3 separate regions of the Homo sapiens genome follow, and all the other regions are linked to region 2. Evidence: fine-mapped expression QTL. A gene starts in region 2. Each other region holds a variant in brackets. All regions are shown on one strand. Distances are between the middles of the regions.

What was found. PIP is the estimated chance that this variant, and not a neighbour inherited with it, causes the effect.
Region 1: its variant is fine-mapped to the expression of RAD51C in T cells (TOPMed, PIP 0.97).
Region 3: its variant is fine-mapped to the expression of RAD51C in sun-exposed skin (GTEx, PIP 0.98).

Annotation. Positions count from the first base shown.
Region 1 is chr17:58,510,793-58,513,551 of GRCh38, reverse strand. It overlaps MTMR4 (myotubularin related protein 4), which reads left to right. Exons shown (of 18, transcript NM_001378067.1): 2 at 611-700; 3 at 1,046-1,162; 4 at 2,041-2,123. Among named protein-coding and RNA genes, the nearest start is that of MTMR4, 2.5 kb to the left of the region's middle. RefSeq lists an enhancer at 51-110. The variant C/T (reference allele first, on the strand shown) is at 1,507.
Region 2 is chr17:58,690,854-58,693,598 of GRCh38, reverse strand. RAD51C (RAD51 paralog C) reads right to left here and starts at 997. Exons shown (of 9, transcript NM_058216.3): 1 at 811-997. The coding sequence starts at 955. TEX14 (testis expressed 14, intercellular bridge forming factor) reads left to right here and starts at 1,554. Exons shown (of 32, transcript NM_031272.5): 1 at 1,554-1,660. IGBP1C (IGBP1 family member C) reads left to right here and starts at 1,554. Exons shown (of 2, transcript NM_001395966.1): 1 at 1,554-1,660. RefSeq lists enhancers at 640-809, 1,140-1,239.
Region 3 is chr17:59,175,356-59,178,114 of GRCh38, reverse strand. All of the region lies in intron 2 of PRR11 (proline rich 11), which reads right to left. It also overlaps the pseudogene SPDYE22P. Among named protein-coding and RNA genes, the nearest start is that of PRR11, 21 kb to the right of the region's middle. The variant C/T (reference allele first, on the strand shown) is at 1,604.

The sequences.
Region 1 (2,759 bases), 180 kb after region 2:
CTTGGCAGGTAATGGGGGCTTGTCAGCAATGTGGGTCTAACAAGAAGATAAGCCCAGCTCTCAAACACGTCTTCCTTTTGAAAGCGTCGGTGAAGGCCCTCTAGAGGCGTGGGACTGAATCCCCCCACCCACTCCTCTTTGTCTCCTTCACCCACCAGATTGAAGCTTCAGTGGCTTGTAGGCGCCTGATTTCCCTTCTCTCTGAAACCAGCTGCCATACCTGGCTCCTTTTCCTCAGGACAGCACTTTCCCATCCCCACTCCTGCCTTACCCTTATGCGGGTCTAAGGGAAAGAGTCTTTCTTTTCCTTAGTTTTCTCTCCTCCATTTTTGAAATGTTGGTTCTATAGGAGAGTCCCTCTTTGAAGAGTGCAGATTCCCAATTCCTCCTGGGGCCTCACTCTTTCCTTAGGCTTAATAGGCTGATATGCTCTCCATTTCACCCTTCCCTGTCTCCAACCAAGTCAGATCTCTTTTCCCTTCTCTGGTGACCAGAACCTTTAGAGGTGTGTGTGTGTGGGTATCTGTGGATTTCTTGGTGGGGAGAGGAGCAGAATGAGCCTGATGGGCTAAGTGGAGCTTGGTGACTTAGGACTGTGGCCTTCCTACAGGGTGAGGAGGGGCCCCCCAGCCTGGAGTACATCCAAGCCAAGGATCTGTTCCCCCCCAAGGAACTAGTGAAGGAGGAAGAGAATCTTCAGGTAAGGAGGAGTTGGGGGCCAGGATAGATGGGGCTCCCTGCCCAGTTAAAAAACACCCTCCCTTCTCCCAAAAATCCTCAAGGGCATCTGGTACCAGAGCTCTGGCTTCATGTTCCCTGGTCTCTGGAGGAGGAGGGTTTGTCTGCGCATCCTGGAGCCTTTGGCCGCAGGGAAGGAAAGGCAGCTTTCCTGTACAGCTGTTGCCTGGTGCTGTTACCGTGGAGAGAACTCTCCTCTCTTGCCTTGGCCCACCTTTTCCAGAGGGGATCCCACAGATCAGGGGCTGTAGAAGAGGATAAGGTGGTCACTCACTTCTGGACTGAAGGTTTCTCTGCCCCTTGACAGGTCCCCTTCACAGTGCTGCAGGGTGAGGGAGTAGAGTTCCTGGGCCGGGCAGCCGATGCCCTCATTGCCATCTCTAACTACCGGCTGCATATCAAATTCAAGGACTCTGTCATCAACGTGAGTTTCTGTATTGTTCTCCTACCCCTAAGCTAGAATCCCTATGAAGTTCAAGGTGGGATTGTTCCAAGGCTGTCCTTGATCATGTCATTAAAAAAGTTGGAGGCCGGGCGCAGTGGCTCACGCCTGTAATCCCAGCACTTTGGGAGGCCGAGGCGGGTGGATCACTTGAGGTCAGGAGTTCGAGACCAGCCTGGCCAACATGGTGAAACTGTGTCTCTACTAACAATACAAAAATTAGTCGGGCTTGGTGGTGCGCACCTGTAATCCCACCTACTCGGGGGCTGAGGTACGGGAATCACTTGAACCTGGGAGGTGGAGGTTGCAGTGAGCCGAGATTGTGC[C/T]ACTGCTGTCCAGCTTGGGTGACAGGGTGAGACTACCTCTCAAAAAAATAAAAAAAAAAAAGTTGGGGATCCCTTCTGTTTCTCTCTGACCTCATGTTTTCCTGCCTCATTTTCCTAGCTCTGTTTCTGGCTCATTCTCCTTTCTCCTCTTCTCTCTTTCCATTATTCTATTACTGGCCCTTCTAAGGAGCACAGTGGCATTGTTGGAAGAACACAGGCTTTGGAGTCAGGCAAACCTGGGCTCTTTTCCTGCGTTGCCACTCACCAGCTGGGTGACCTTGGTCAAGTCACCTAACTGAGGCTTGATTTTTCTCCTCGTAATATGGGCTGAAAGCACCTGCTGTGCAACGTTATTGGGATCATTAATTGGGATCACATATGCAGAGGACTCCGTACAGTTACCAGGTGCTTAACAGACCCTCAGTAAATGTTGGTTTCCTTCCTGCTATTGATACATTAGTGCCTACGCTAGGGTGAGGGTGAGGAGTGGTACCCAGTGGGGAGTCTGAGCTTCAGTTTGCCCTTCCTCTACAGGTCCCCCTCCGGATGATTGACAGTGTGGAGAGCCGTGATATGTTCCAGTTGCACATTTCCTGCAAGGACTCCAAAGTGGTGAGGTGAGAACAACGGAGCCTCACTCAGGTCCCCTGGCCCTAGTCTTGTCCAGTTCTCTGTGCTGCAGGGTTTCTCTGGTGCAAGAGAGGAAAGATCCTGCCTCACTTTCCCCAGTTGGAAGAAAAGGTGAAGACCATGTTCTGGGTTGGGAGGTCAGTTTACTGACCCATAGGATCTTGACCTGAAAAAATGGGGGTAATGCCTAGTTCATGGAGTCATCGTAAGGATTAAGTGAGATAATGTGTATGTGTATGAAAGCACCGAGGACAATATCTGGCACAGAGCACTCATATTATTGTTGGTTTATTTATTTATTCATTTGATATACATGTATTGAGTACCCTACTCAATGCCAGCCTGTTTTAAGCCCTGGGGATACAGCAGGGAACAAATAGACAAAATTTTGCCGCCTCAGAGAGCTTACATTCCAATGAGGAGATACCAACCGTAAGTAATAAGTAAAATTTGTGAAATGATAGTAAGTGTAAAGGAAAAAAATAAAGCAGGGAAAGGGAATAAGGAGTGCTATGAGGGTGAAGATTGTAAAACAATCAGGCTGGGCACGGTGGTTCACGCCTGTAATACCAGCACTTCGGGTGGCCAAGGTGGGAAGATCCCTTCAGCTTAGGAGTTCAAGA
Region 2 (2,745 bases):
TGGGGGACACAGTCTGCGCGCGGTATGACTTAAACAGTTAAGGCTGGGTCCACGAGACTTATTCTTTAGAGGCGAATTGAAACCTCTGTATTTTCCATCAGTAAGGGCAGTAACTTAAAATTCTGTTCCATCTTCTTCAGTGAATAGCACAGGTCCAGACATGTCATAGAGAGATGTGCACAACAAGTGACCACCGCCAGCCTCATATTTGTATGTCTCAGGATGCAGTGGTTCCCATCTGCAATGCTCTGGAATATGAGGTTTTGGGTGTTTCAGTTAATTACGTAAGAGAATATTCTTTCTATGCTTCCTCAAGATTCCGGGGATTCTACTCTCTTTCTCATTCTTAGTGTCTCTAGTCCTACACAAAATCCTGCATTTCTGAAATTTAACCCTTACCCCTTGGATCTTGGAACAGCAAAAATTAGACAACCAATTCTGACTCCAGTATTTCCTAACCCAGTTAGCATGAAAAGTTACCTAAGCTCCCCAAGATATCAGTTCTCTCATCCATATACTGAATATAATAATCTACGTAAGCGGGTTGAGGGTTAAATGAGACAATCCTCAAAGCATTCAGCAGGCATTGCCAGAGGAAAAGCAATTAGTAAATGTTTTCACGACCACAGTTCTCCTAACCATTCAGACAACTTGTAAGTGGAGTCGAGGAGCTCTTTCACGCTGTAAACATGGACGTGGGAGGAAGCAGAATCTAACGGAGACTGGGCTGAAGGCCGAGGCGAGAGAACGAAGACTGAGGCGGCGCTGACGGCGGCCGGTGTGCCTCAGCTTGCCATCAGGAGTCGTTACCTTTGCTAAGCTCGGAGGGTTTCACCTCTAGGAGTTCCTCAGCAGTCTGGAACCCCGCAGACACCAGCTTCACCCGCACCGCTGGAGACAGCGGGAAACTCACCAAATCCCGCTGCATTTCAAAGCGGAACGTCTTCCCGCGCATCGCAGGCTCACCTGCTAACCCCGGAGCAGCCAAACTCCGCACGCCCTCGCTGGGGCGTGCGGCGTGACGTCAGACGTAAAGCGGAAGGGGCCGGCTCTGCGGCCTGGCCGCACGGGGCTCCGGGCCTTGCAGCTTTGCGCAGTCTTGTAAATTTTCACACTTATGCACCATTCCGTTTTGATTCCCCAAAATCCCATTTAGAGATTCCTCATCAAATGTACACCCTGACTGTAAAACGATGGACGGAGACCATAGGACGGAGAGCCAGGCCCAGTGGGTTCTCCACGCCACATTTCCTTGCCTCCACCGTGGCCTGTTAGGTGAAGCCTCAGAGTCATTAATAGGAATGATCTCGAGTGGGAGTAGTGAGCGTAACGGGCACACACTAGCCAGTTACCATTATTTTGGTGTGAAAAGCTCAGGGAACAATCATTAGAATTAATCTGCGTGCTCTTTGTAGAGTTGCAGTCTCTTGGCTCTTCCCGCTGACCGTCCCCCTTTTCTGACCCCCCCCCCCCGCAACGACCACATTGCTTTTCCCGCCCTCGCGAGGGATTGTGGGCCAGCCCCCAACGGCCGCTGGGAGGGATCAGTCCGCATTCCCCGCACCCACCCACGTCTTCCCGGGAGTCGTATCCCGAGCATGGAGGTTACTGAGACCGTTATTTCTTCATGGCCTGCCTAGCTTAAGCAGTAGCTGGAAAAGTAAGCAACTAATGTCCCCATTAGTGTGTCTGGGCTCCTGGGGTCCTGAGAAGGAGGGGCTGGGCTACACAAGAGCTCCTTTTGTGGTACAGACTTGGGAAGGGGTGTTCAAGCAGTGGTAGTGACCGCCTCTAAATTACAGAACTTCGGGGAGGAAGGCAAGCAGTTTAGAAGGTGGTTTATGAGTTCCTTCCTTGCCTAGGTGAGTGTAACTTATTTAGCAGGGGGTAACTTATTCCCTACCTATTGGCGATTTTTTTTTTTTTTTTTTTGAGACAGAGTCTCACTGTGTTGCCCATGATGGAGTGCAGTGGCACGATGTCGGCTCACTGCAACCTTCGCCTCCCGGGTTCAAGTGAGTCTCCTGCCTCAGCCTCTTGAGTACCTGGGATTACAGGCGCACGCCACCATGCCCGGCTAATTTTTGTATTATTATTAGAGAAGGGGTTTCACCATATTGGCCAGGCTGGTCTCGAACTCCTGACCTCGTGATCCGCCTGCCTCGGCCTCCCAAAATGCTGGGAGTACAGGCGTGAGCCACCGCGCCCGGCCCTGTTGGCAATGATTCTTAGTCTTGACTTTTCTTCCCAGCTTAGAAGAACTTTCTAAATATTGCAAATCAGAGCCCTCTACATACTTAGATCTAAAAAAGGAAACAACGTATGTTGAGCACTTTAGCAAATCCCACACATTTCAAATGGCCATAGCCATGCCAAAAGGAAGATAAGGACATGGAAGCTCAGCATATAGTTTAATATCAATTCTGATAAAAGAAAAAAAGCTGGCCGGGCGCAGTGGCTCGTGCCTGTAATCCCAGCACTTTGGGAGGTCGAGGCAGGTGGATCTCTTTGAGCTCATGAGTTTGAGACCAGCCTCGACAACATGGCGAAACACTGTCTGTACCAAAAGTACAAAAAATTAGCCGGGCATGGTGGCATGCACCGGTCGTCCCAGCTACTCAGAAGTCTGTGGTGGGAGGATCCCTTCAGCCTGGGAGTGAGCTATGATCACGCCACTGCACTCCAGCTTGGGTGATAGAGTGAAACCCTGTCTCAAACAAACAAAACACCTCAGCACAGTTTTCT
Region 3 (2,759 bases), 480 kb before region 2:
TGTTCCGCTTGCCTTGGCCTCCCAAAATGCTGGGATTACAGATGTGAGCCACTGTGCCCCTCTGGCTCCCACAGTCTTGAGTCTTGGTGCCCACCTGTTTTTTTTTTTTTTTCGAGACAGTATCTAGCTGTGTTCCACAGGATGGAGTGCAGTGGCATGATCACAGCTCACCACAGCCTCTAATTCCTGGGCTCTTGCAATCCTGCCTCAGCCTCCTGAGCAGTTGGGAGTACAGGCACATGCCATCATGCTCGAATAATTTTTATACAAACAGTCTTGCTATGTTGCCCAGGTTGTTCTAGAACTGTTGGACTCACTTGATCCTCCTGTCTCAGCCTCTCAAACTTCTGGGATCACAGGCTTGAGCTGCCACTCCCGGCTATTCTTGGTCTTTTTATTATTTGTCAGCATCTCCCTCAGGACTCTGCTGGTCTCTTGCTGAGTGAATGAGTGGCCCCTGCCTCTCCTATGGGTCATTTGGGATCTGAGCTCTGGGCCACAGTCAGGCCGCAGCCCTGAAGCTCCTAGCCCCTTTACTCTCAGTTCTTTGGGACAGTTCTCTGCCTGGCACACAAAAGACCCTCCTGATACCAGCCGACCTAGACACACTCCTTCAAAGATCTCATCAGAGCCCACCATCCTGGGAGCATCACCAACATGCCTTCCTCCAGCTTCTCGGATTTGCATCCGACCTTCAAATACCCCACCACCCCGCAATTTCCACATGAGCACAGTCACCCCAACACTCAGGTCCCTTCTCTGATGGGCAAACCCTCCCTAGACCCCCATTCCACTGTCTCCACGATCTTCCTCTCCCAAGATGTGACCTCTCCCTTTCTGTGTTCCTTTCTCTCCACCAGTATCTCCTGGCTATGGTCATAGCATATTTTAGCCGCGCCGGCCTCTTCTCCCGGCAATACCAATGCATTCATTTATTCCTGGCTCTGTGAGTGGTTTGCTTCCTCCTATCTGTCAATATCCAATACCCTGGGACAGCGGGGGAAGTGGGATTCCAGCCTTTCATTTATTCTTGCACCTATTTGTCCTCTTTACTCTGTGTACAAAAAAGAGGATTATACTATCTTGTTTTTAGACTGCTGTTTCTAAAAAGAAACTCAGGCTGGGCGCGGTGGCTCACGCCTATAATCCCAGCACTTCGGGAGGCCGAGGCAAGCAGATCACTTGAGGTCAGGAGTTTGAGACCAGCCTGACTAACATGGCAAAACCCCATCTCTACTAAAAATAGAAAAATTAGCCAGGCATGGTGGTGTGCACCTGTAATCCAAACTACTCGGGAGGCTCAGGCAAGAGAACCCGTTGAACCCAGGAGGCAGACATTGCAGTAAGCTAAGTTTGAGCCACTGCATTCCAGCCTGGGCAACAGAGCGAGACTTTTTCTCAAAAAAAAAAAAAAAAAAAAAAAAAAAAAAGCCAAAAAAACCAAATTCCAACGCCAGTGTACAAATAAAAGAATAAAACAAAAGGAACCATAAACCGCTCCTAAGGGGAGAAGAAAAGGAGCAAAGGAGCGGACACGATGCTTCCCCCAGCAAGCAGACATTTCTGGTTCTTCTGTCTCTCTCCTTCCCATATCAACTGCAAA[C/T]GCCATCGACCTCCTCCGGGTTCCCATGACAGAGGCAACAGTTCAGGTCCCCCTTGCATCACTCGAATCCACTGTCAAATGCTCCCTGCTGGGGCCTCCTGGAGTCTCTCCCCAAGCCTGGGGGCTTCCTAGTGCAGCCTGAGCGTCTTTCCAAAGCACAACACCCTCACTGCCCACCTGAACAACTTCCTTAGCTGATGTCTTTCTAAATTGAGGCCAGGGTCCACAGTGCAAATTCCACCCTCTCTATAATCTCTACAACCAAACTGGCTCGCCATCTTGGTGTTTCCTGGTGTGGCTTCACCGCTCTTTCCAAATGCCCTCCACTCGACTTTGCGTTTGTGTTTTCTGTCTGGGTGTCCCGCACACATGTGGTTCTGAAGGGAAGGACCCATTCCTTAAAGTCAGTTCACCCCATAGCCTCTGTGATGCCTTCCCTCATCTTGCAACTTTTACATGCTTGTAGCTCTCCAGTTACATCCTATTATAATGTGATATTGGGATTACGTCATCTGCCCTGATTACTCCCAGTCCCATTAGACTAGATGCCTGTAGAAGGCAGGGTCTTGGCACAATATCAATGTATTCAATTTCTTTTATTTTTTTGAGACAGACTTGCCCTGTCCCCCAAGCTGGAGTGCAGTGGTGAGATCATAGCTCACTGCAGCCTCCATATCCTGTACTCCAGTGATCCTCCCACCTCAGCCTCCGGATTAGCTTTGACTACAGGGCTGTGACACCACACCTGGACAGTTATTTATTTATTTATTGAGACAGAGTCTTGTTCTGCCTCTGAGGCTGGAATGGAGTGGCCCAATCTCGGCTCACTGCAACCTCCTCCTCCTGGGTTCATGTAATTCTTGTGCCTCAGCCTCTTGCGTAGCTAGGACTAAGAGGTGTGCCACCACACCAGGCTGATTTTTGTATCTTTAGTAGATATGGGGCTGGTCTCGAACTCCTGGCCTCAAGCGACCCACCTGCTTCAGCCTCCCAAATTGCTGGGATTACAGGCATGAGCCACCACGTCTGGCGTGTCTTTTACATTTTTTATAGAGACGAGGGTCTTGCTATGTTGCCCAGGCTCATCTCAAACTCCTGGCCTCAAATGATCCTCCTGCCTCAGCCTCCCAATGTGCTGGGATTCCAGGCGTAAGCC